2 separate regions of the Homo sapiens genome follow, and region 1 is linked to region 2. The links come from fine-mapping of genetic effects on gene expression. Tissue or cell type: whole blood. Region 2 holds a variant in brackets; the other region holds the start of a gene. All regions are shown on one strand. Distances are between the middles of the regions.

Region 1 (5,000 bases), 90 kb after region 2:
GAGTATCTGGATCCCAGCTCCCCATCACTAGGAGAAGAGGAAAACAGTCAGTTCCGGGAGGTACCTGTGGTGCACAGCTGTAAATCATCAGGCGGAGAGCATGCAAGGGCATCTGGAAGACTTTTGAAGCAAAGGCCACACACAACAGAACTCAAGTCCGAACAGGCCTTGAATAATACTGGTTCCCTCAATTGGTTCTGGCAGGGACAGGGTCACTCTCACTAACAATGCAAACATAACAGGGCAGGATGATCCCCCGGACATTGGTGCTCCGAATTCTAGAGCAGCACGATTACCTATGAGTCTTCTAACCAAGCCATCCTGGGAAGGGATATTGTTCAGAAGAGAACGGCCCTGGAATGTACATGAAGGGCCTTGGAGGAGACAGGGAACAAGCAAAGGCATCAGGCGATCTTCAGTCCCAGCCAAGTTGCTTCCCAAGGGGGTATTTCCAAGGGGAGCACTCACCTGTCAGAGTCGAGGGACACCAGGTTTTCATCTGGACTCTGGCTAAGAGCAGTATAGCCCTTGTTAAACTTCACTGACCTGAGGGGAGACGGGGGAGAAGAGACCAAACATAGATGAAAGCATAGGCATTTCACAGGGATAGGCAGAGTCCTCGCCCTGAAGGAGAAAGAATTGACTGCACTACTGACTTGCCTTCTCCCTGGTCACAGCCACCACTGCCTGCAGCTCCATGTACCTGGCTACAGTGCCTCAGAATGTGTATGTTCTCATTCTTTTTTTCTTTTTTTGGAGACAGAGTCTGGCCCTGTCACCCAGGCTGCAGTGCAGTGGCGCGATCTCGGCTCACTGCAATCTCCGCCTACCATGCTCAAGTGATTTTCCTGCCTCAGCCTCTTGAGTAGCTGGGACTACAGGCGTGCCCAGCTAATTTTGTATTTTTAATAGAGACGGGCTTTCACCATGTTGGCCAGGCTGGTCTCGAACTCCTGACTTCAAGTGATCCACCCGCCTCGGCTTCCCAAAGTGCTGGAATTACAGTCGTGAGCCACCACGCCCGGCCTGTATTCTACTCCTCCCATAGGTCTTGGAAAAAAGCACACCTCCCCTTGCCTGATCTAGGAAAAGCACCCTCTCCCCACTTATTTAATCAGAGGACACAAAAACTGCAAGTCTTTGGGTAAAAGGTTAGGGTTAACCTTCACTTCTCCGAGTTTCAACCCTCATCTGTAAAAGGAGGCACTGAATAAGGTTCTATGCAGCTCCGAGTTTACTATTCTGTTAAAAACAAACAAACAAAAACAGGTCTAGCCATTCCCACACTGCTCTTCGTCCTCATTGCTGGGGACTCCAGCCACCATTCTCCTCCCTAACAGAGGAGGAGAATGATAGTGAATGAGCCTGTGCACTCACAGAACTCCCTTATTCCGAAGCCCTTTATCTGATCCTATCACATCCTTAAAGGAAAAGAGAGATTGTTCCTCTTCCCATTTTAAAGATAGTGAACCTGACAGGTTGCATCAGGGGAATCGCTAGCTCGGCCTTAAACCAGAGCACCCTGCCTCCGTCCTGGGGATTAAAGCCTTCTCTAAAGCTGCTGGCACAGAGGAGGTGGCGCCTGCTGAGACCTTTTCCCTGAAGAGTCTGGGCGGTTCGGCGAGGCCCCCAGCATGCCTTTTCTCCGCAGAACGGCCTTGGCCAGGTCCCGGTGCTTCTCTGGAAGTTAAAGGACCCGGGTCAGCCGGGTCTTCCCCACTCCGCCGCGTCTCCCGAAGGCTGGGAGGCCGCTCTTTCCGAACGGATTTTGAGGGGCGAGAGCAGGCTGCAGCTAACCCCTTCCCTCCGGGGCCGAGGCCCAGCGGAGCTCCGGAACCCGCCCTGGGGACGCGGCCGCCCGCCCAGGGAGAAACCTCCCCCGACCATCGGGCCACACTCACGCAGCTTGGCTTGAATGGAGGGTGCGCGCGTCACCATGTATGGCCCCCGCTTTTCCACGGCCGCGGGGGTGCGCTCCCCCAGACGGAGGGCTCTATTACCGATCTGCCCGGAGGGTGGCCCCGCAGCTCCCGGCGCGCGGTCCCGAGCCCCGCTGGGCCGGGGTCCCGGGGTAGACAACCGCAACGCGCGCCCGCTGGGCTCCGCGGTCGCCATGGCCGGGCCCCGCCCTGCCGGATGGTGCAACCCCGCCCGTGGCGAAAGAGTGACCGGCCGAGGGAGAGGCGGGCTCTTTTAACAAGATGGCGGTGCGCAGGCGCAGGTAGTCCCCTTTCGGAGCTCTCCGGTTCGGTAGTCTGAGGACTTGGCCGAAATGTTCCGCCCTTCTTTTCGGGGGGACCGGGCAGTTCCGTTCTCGGTTTTGGGGTAGGCGGCTTGAGCCTGGTGATGGTTAGGCTTAGTTCTGTCTCTAGTGGAAATTAAATACTGATACTGTCGTGGGGCTGCGCGTGTGCGTCGGTCGGGTGCCCACGGTTTGAGTCCTGGCGCGCCGCACTCTGTGCTTCTCGCAGTGTCTCCTTGGGGGTCTCCCCACATGTGGGGCTGCCAGAGAGCAGACTTGGGTTGAAGAGTCATATGAGGACAAGCGTTATCAGCGACCTTTTCTAGCAAAAGAAACAGGCCCCAGAAGTTAAAGAACCTTGTGAAGGTGACACATCTAGAGGCAGTGCTTGCGCTGATCCATCTGACGCCAAACCCCACCTTCTTTCCAACACCAATTGGTGCCTGTGACATTGGACAGGACCTGACCCTCTCTAGGCCTCAGTTTCCACATTTAAAAATAGAGCCAATGTCACTACTCATTGTACAGTGAGGCAAATAGGCGTTGAAAAGGAGGGTGAAAGTGCACTCTGAGTCTGTGTGTGGTAGGCTATGTGTCAGGGCTCTTGACTTCTCTAGCCCCCAAGGGATGTGCTTGTGACTGGCTGGAAAGAAACTCCAGATCCTTGTAGAACTCCCAAATCTCATGAGGCTGTCCCTTGACTAACTTACTGGCTTCAATAGGGTAGGTCAACAGTGTGCAACCTCCGAGCTCCCAGGGCCACGCAGACCGTTGGGTGGCACTATGCCTTGGGCAAGAGAGGTGAAAAGGAAGAATTTAGGGCTGAAGTTTTCAAAAATCAAAAGCACAAAGGAATCCTTACCATTTTGGTAGATTCCCCCCACTCCCCATGATGTTAGACTGTTTTTGCCTCCAGAAACAGCAGGTTCATATAGCTCAACTTAGTATTTAATGGTTATAACCTCCCAATGAAGCCAATAGTTATTCTTGTTAAACAAATGAAGCTTAGACTTGGTCAAGTTTACCAGTTAAGTGATAAACCTGGAATTTGTACCCAGTTGCCTGTGGACTCCAAAGAAGTAGTTTTCTGGCCGGGCACAGTGGCTCACATCTGTAATCCCAGCACTTTGGGAGGCTGAGGCAGGCGGATCACCCGAGGTAGGGAGTTCAAGACCAGCTTGGCCAACATGGTGAAACCCCATCTCTACTGAAAATACAAAATTAGCCGGGCGTGGTGGCGGGTGCCTATAATCCTAGCTATTCAGGGGCTGAGGCAGGAGAATCGCTTGAACCCAGGAGGCGGAGGTTGCAGTGAGCCGAGATCAGGCCACTGCACTCCAGCCTAGGCAACAGAGCAAGACGCTGTCTCAAAAACAACCAACCAACCACCCCCCAGCCAAAAAAAAAAAAAAAAAAAACCAACAAAAAAACAACGAAGTGGTTTTCTCCTGGTTATGCTGATGTGGACATCACCAAGGGCCAAAGAAAATGTGATTTAAACCAGCAGTCTCCAGCCTTTTTGGCACTAGGGGTTGGTTTTGTGGAAGACAGTTTTTCCACGGGGTGGAAATGCGGGGGCTGGTTTTGGGATGATTCAAGCACATTTATTGTGCACTTTATTATTACATTACAATATATAATGAAATAATTATACAACTCAACTTAGAATCAGTAGGAGCCCCAAGCTTGTTTTCCTGCAACTAGACGGTCCCATCTGGGTGTGATGGGAGACAATGACAGATCATCAGGCATTAGATTCTCATAAGGAGCCCACAACCTAGATCCCTTGCATGTGTGGTTCACAATAGGGTTCATGCTGCTATATGACTCTAATGCCACGGCTTATCTGACAGGAGGCGGACGGAGCTCAGGTGGTAATGTGAGCAATGGGGAGCCACTGTAAATACAGATGAAGCTTTGCTCACTCATGGACCAGTATCCATCCATGGCCTGGGGCTTGGGAACCCCGACCTAAACCCACTTAATGTCACAAGATCACTAGGAACTTGTAGCAAAAGTGTGACAGCCTTCATGCACACTCCTCCCAATCTTCCATCAATAATGCTGTTAACTGCTGACTGATTGAACATAGACCCTGAAGCCAAATTATTTGCTCTGTTACCTACTGGCAAATTATTAAACCTCTTTATGTCTCAGTTTCTTTAGCTAAGTGGAGATAAGAAAACCCATCTAATGGAAGTGGAATTGTGAAGTTCAGTTGTAAAGTGTTTAGAATGACACCTGGCAAATAGTAAGTGTTCAAGAAATATATGCTATTATTTACACAACCCTTATACAGCATTACAAGGATTTAGTGTTTATTCTCTCATTTGACTTTACACTCCCCAAGGGCAGACCTTATTCACTTTTTAGCATAAGGTTATAGTAATAAGTATTTGTTGAATTAATATCCTATTTCCCCTCTTTTAGTTAACTAGTATCATAGAACTTTGGGGCTGGAAGAGATCTTTTTTTTTTTTTTTTTTTTTGAGACAGAGTCTTGCTCTGTCGCCCAGGCTGGAGTGCAGTGGCGCGATCTTGGCTCACTGCATGCCCTACCTCCCAGGTTCACACCGTTCTCCTGCTTCAGCCTCCTGAGTAGCTGGGACTACATGCGCCCGCCACCACACCTGGCTAATTTTTTTTTGTATTTTTAGTAGAGACGGGGTCTCACCATATTAGCCAGGATGGTCTCAATCTCCTGACCTCGTGATCCGCCCTCCTCGGCCTCCCAAAGTGCTGGGATTACAGGTGTGAG
Region 2 (5,257 bases):
TCATAGAGACACAGGAGGTAACAAAAAGGTGGGCTGTTTCTCACAGCACCAAGCTGGGCCCTGCTTCAGGACCAGGATGGCAAAACTTATACAACACTCACTGCTATGGGCCTTGCCAAATCTGGGTGTCACAGATCATGTGAGGGAGCAGAGGCACCTTCTCCAAGATCACCCAGTGATGTGTGCATTGTCTGTTCATTCATTCGTTCACCCTGATGTTCCTCTGTGCCCAGCCCAGAGATACCAGGCAGAGTGAGGCTGAAGGAGCCCATGGTCTGGGGCAAGGTCTCACCCACAGGCCTTGTAAGGCTGAAAGCCTTCTGCAAGGATTTCAGAGGCAGTGACAGCTTCCAGAGGCCCTGGGACTTGTGGCCTTGCAGCTCTGAGCCTCCCTACCCCCATCCCTGGCCTTTATAGAGCAAACAGGCTGGATTAGCTGCCTCCAGAACGTCCTGGCAGAGTCTGGGCCCTGGGCCAGGTTCCAGGCTGGCAGGTTGGAGGGTGGGGAGCGAGCTCGAGTAGGGCCTCTGAGTTCCCTGCCCCCAGTTCCTGCCAAGACTGCCTCAGTTTCTCTCCCATTCCTTTTTCCTACCATGCAGGGCTCCTTCCTCCCCGCCCCACCACCGCCAGTGGCAATTCTCACACACATACTCCATCCTGCATTCTTTCATCGCAGTCCTGTGGGCCGGTTCTCACCTTCACATCTTTGCTTTCCTGCTTTCCTCACCTTGGAATGCCCCCTAGGTCCTGTCCACCAGGAAGCTCTGGCCTCATTTGGCCACAGCCTAGAGTCTTGGGCCTTCTTGCAGTTACTCCCTCCTAAAGTGCTCTCCTGTGTTCTGTGGTCTCAGGCACTTCCTTTTTTGTCACAAGGCCTCAGTTTCGTCATCTGAGAAATGGGAAGGGTTAGACACAAATCTCTCTCGTGGTGGAAAAAGCTTGTGCTTTGGAGTCATATGGAGCTGAATTCCATCCAATCCACTTAGTTCCTTAACTTTTATGAGCCTCACCTTCCTCATCTGTTAGATGGGGTCTTATAAAAACAGACAGCACACACTGCGGTGAGGCTTCACTGACGACGTGGATGGTGCTGGCATTCATTGCCCTCCCCAGCAAAGGCCCCTCCAGCTGTGCTGGGCTCTGACTCCTGCTTCCCTGGCTGGCCGCTTATTTAATGGTAGGCCTTGGCATTGTCGCCTTCTCTTCCGGGAGCCCAGCCCGGGCCAAGTGAGAGAGTGAAGGGGGAGATGGGGTGTAGTGGAGCCTGGGGCTTGAGCTGCCCTTGTCCACAGACGCCATCCTGGGCCTGGAGGAAGTGCGGCTGACGCCATCCATGAGGAACCGGAGTGGCGCCGTGTGGAGCAGGGCCTCTGTCCCCTTCTCTGCCTGGGAAGTAGAGGTGCAGATGAGGGTGACGGGACTGGGGCGCCGGGGAGCCCAGGGCATGGTGAGTGTCCTCTCCCAGAGCTGACAGAGCGGGGTGGGTCAGGGAGGCGGGTGATGAGCCCCGGGGTCCCAGTATCCCACACGGTTCCCTGAGCTGAGGGGCTGGGGACCTGCAGGCCGTGTGGTACACCCGGGGCAGGGGCCATGTAGGCTCTGTCCTTGGGGGGCTGGCTTCGTGGGACGGCATCGGGATCTTCTTTGACTCTCCGGCAGAGGATACTCAGGTGCGTAGTGGTCTCCTGCCTGCCAGCCCGCCTGCCCGCTCACACCCTCCCCCTCCCGCCATGTCCGCGGCTCAGGCTGCTTCTCACCTCCCTGCAGGACAGTCCTGCCATCCGTGTGCTGGCCAGCGACGGGCACATCCCCTCTGAGCAGCCTGGGTAAGGGCCTGTCTGGACTGACCACTCACCTCCATTTTTGCACTGGGAGGGGCCCATCCCCCCCATCCGAGCCCCTGCCCCAGCCTCCTCCAGCAGGGGGCCCACCCTGCCGGGCCGCCATACTTGCTGGACTCTCTCACTTAGCCGACGTCCGCCCCCCTGGGGCTTGATTCCTTCGACCCAGCAGCCCCAGGTGAAATGACACAGGCTGGGGCCTG[T/C]GATGAGTATCTTTGCTCCCATGATCTCATCCCATCTCCAACACCCTCCATAAGTGGGGGGTTATTCGTCCCATTTACAGGTCAGGACATTGAGCCCAGAGAGGGGAAGGGATGTGCCGTGCGCAGTGCTGAACTTTGAGCCCAGACTTACCCCTGGAGGGTCCTCGCCCTTCCCTGCATAGCTGTCCCTTCCCTTTCCCCTGATGATTTGGCTTCTGTCCCTCCCCGGCCCTACTGCCTCCTCAGTAGCTGGGCCGGTTTGTCAGTGTCTCTCAGCAACCTTCTCTCGGCTCATAACAATTAGAGTAATTGCCTGCATTTATGGAGTGAGCTGATTGTATGCCAGGCACAGCACCAAGCCCTTCTCATTTACTGTCTTAGTTAACCCTCATAACATTGTTATGAGGTCGTTCCAATTACCATCCTCGTTTTAGAGATGGGAACACTGGGGTTTGGAGAGATGAGATGGCTTGCCCAAGGTCACATAGCTCGGGGCACAAACCCAGGTGGCTGCTGTGGTGCTGGCTTCTCCCCTGCCCTGTGCTGCCTCCCTCTTGGCGGAAGGCGGCACTGTCAGACGCTCTGCTGTGAGTAGCCTGAGGTGTCCAGAGACACTCAGCGTTTAACACTCTTCTCCTGACTCCCCAGAGCCTGCCGAGCCGACCTGTCAGGGAGGCAGCCTGGTCACATTGTCCTTGGCTGCCGGGACATGTCCAGGTCATCCGTCCTGAGTCAGCTGCATTCTGAGCCCTGGCAGCTGGGAGAGGAAAAGGAAGCCAGAGGCACAGAGGACTTGGAGTTTAAAAGAAGGAGGAGGGAGAGGCCAGGCACAGTGGCTCACGCCTGTAATCCCAGCATTTTGGGAGGCTGAGGCGGGCTAATCACCTGAGGTCAGGAGTTTGAGACCAGCCTGGCCAACATGGTGAAACCCTGTCTCTACTAAAAATTAAAAAAATTAGCCGGGTGTGGTGGCGAGCACCTGTAATCCCAGCTACTCGGGAGGCTGAGGCAGGAGAACCGCTTGAACCCAGGAGGCAAAGGTTGCAGTGAGCCGAGATCGCGCCACTGCACTCCAGCCAGGGCAACAGAGCAAGACTCCGTCTCAGAAAAAAAAAAAAAAAGAGAGAGAGAAGAAGGAGGGACGTAAGGGTGATAGGACGAGGGTGATAGGTGGGTCGGGGGAATGGAGGGCAGAAACTGTATTGTTGGTCCAGGCCTTTGTCCCCTTAAGGAAGGGCCACAGGGAGGCCCCTGGCCCCTTCTGTAAATCCAAGTCCCAACACTCCGTCAGGCAGGGCTTGCTTCCCCTGCTCCTCTCTCTTCTGCCAAGGGAGCAGGGTACAACAAGGGAGACTCAAGCTAGACAAGGTACATGTCCCATGCCAGCTCGCCCAGCGGAAAGGGAGGTGGCACAGCAAATCTGGGCAGAGTGGCTTCTGGGACTGCCCTCACTGTCCAGGCCTTGAGTCCTGTATATCCTGGCTGGATTCCAACTGCCCACAAGAGTCAGGCATGGTGGCTCACACCTGTAATCCCAGCACTTTGGCAGCCAAGACAGGTGGATCACTTGAGGTCAGGAGTTTGAGACCAGCCTGACCAACAATGTGAAACCCCATCTCTGCTAAAAATACAAAAATTAGCCGGGCATGGTGGTGCATGCCTGTAGTCTCAGCTACTTGGGAGGCTGAGGTGGGAGGATCACTTGAGCCCAGCAGGCAGAAGTTGCAATGAGCCACAACTGCACCACTGCACTCCAGCCTGGGCAGCGACTCTTTCTCAAAAACAAACAAATGAACAAACTGCCCACAGGGATGGAGCTAGCCAAGGGCTGGGCTCCTGTCATTGGGACTTCCGGAACCGGCCACACCCCTTCAGAGCACGGATCACCTACTGGGGGCAGAGGCTGCGCGTGAGTCACCCTTCCTGCTTCTGACAGGGCTCTGAGTTACAGAGCTGCTATGTGTGCGTGCCCACGGCCCCAACACACCAGTGCCTGTGACACCACGTGAGGTCCCTGGCACACACGGGCCAACATCCACAGGGGATCCTCCATCCCTACACAGAATCCTAACACTCACCCAGAGCACATACATGTAAGGGCTCACATGAGACCAGGAGTGCGGGTCACCTCCATGCCATTCTGATACCAAGCCCTAGGGCCACCTGCCATCCCACGGCCAGGGGAGCCAGGGAGTCAGAGGTAGGGACACCCCCCCACTGCTCACTCTCTCCATGTCCCTCAGATGTCCTTGAACAGTGGCCTCACTCCCAGTGATCCAGGTGAGTTCTGTGTGGATGTGGGGCCCCTGCTTTTGGTCCCTGGAGGTTTCTTTGGGGTCTCAGCAGCCACCGGCACCCTGGCAGGTGAGGATCCCACTGGACAGGTAAGAGCAGAAGGGCAGTGATGAATAAATCACCCTCAGCACACCTTCTAAAGAGCACTGGGGTGGCGTCAGCCACTTCACCACATGACCTGGGCTTCTGTGACCCTTGGGAGAAGTCATGTCTGCCTTGAGACTTGCAAGTCTCAAATGGGATAAAACAAGAGAAGCTTTGATTTCAGTGCTGGCCACATAAGTGCCCCTAGCTGTGAGTTGCGGGACAAGTGGAAGACAGACAGCAAAGAGGGGCATTTAGGAAAATGGAGCAAAGAAATGTGACACCATGGAGAGTCCACGGAGGGTCCCACAGCGGGAAAGCTGAGGGCAACCAGAGCGTGGGAGTCCTTGAATGCCAGGACCTTGGTCTGGTTTCTGAGGAGGAGAGTGACATGGTCAGAGCTATGCTGGAAAGGTGGCCACTGTGCAGTTGCTACTACCAGTAGCAGCTGTGCTCTGGGGGCCTAAGAGTGTCAGATGGTCTGCTGCCATGGCTCTAGCCCAGGATGTTTTGGGATCGTCCAGTTCTGCCACAGGGGCCTGCCTCTGACTGAGTGTGAGGTTCAACCCTCACCACCCACCCGTCTACCTGTCAACCCTCACACCTTTCCTAGGAAGTAAGCAAGACAAGCATCAGACGGTGGCCCAAAGTCACCCCTCTTGCCTCGGTGGGATATCATGGCGGTTAGGGTGAAGGCTGAGCGAGGGGGTTGCTGGGTGGAGGGGTCTTACTTCTCCTTCATCTGTCCCCTTCCAGATGATCATGATGTCCTGTCCTTCCTGACCTTCAGCCTGAGTGAGCCCAGCCCAGAGGTGATGCCAGCCCTGGCCTACC

What was found. PIP is the estimated chance that this variant, and not a neighbour inherited with it, causes the effect.
Region 1: FAM219B starts here. The variant in region 2 is fine-mapped to the expression of FAM219B in whole blood (TOPMed, PIP above 0.99).

What each region holds. Positions count from the first base shown.
Region 1 is chr15:74,904,686-74,909,685 of GRCh38, forward strand. FAM219B (family with sequence similarity 219 member B) reads right to left here and starts at 2,166. Exons shown (of 5, transcript NM_020447.5): 1 at 1,902-2,166; 2 at 1,593-1,680; 3 at 469-546; 4 at 1-27. The coding sequence starts at 2,115. RefSeq lists enhancers at 776-1,582, 1,583-2,387, 2,229-2,508 and a silencer at 1,869-2,168.
Region 2 is chr15:74,814,865-74,820,121 of GRCh38, forward strand. LMAN1L (lectin, mannose binding 1 like) reads left to right here. Exons shown (of 14, transcript NM_021819.3): 2 at 1,293-1,447; 3 at 1,563-1,670; 4 at 1,768-1,826; 5 at 3,854-3,953; 6 at 4,288-4,408; 7 at 5,180-5,235. Among named protein-coding and RNA genes, the nearest start is that of LMAN1L, 4.7 kb to the left of the region's middle. RefSeq lists an enhancer at 4,992-5,257. The variant T/C (reference allele first, on the strand shown) is at 2,045.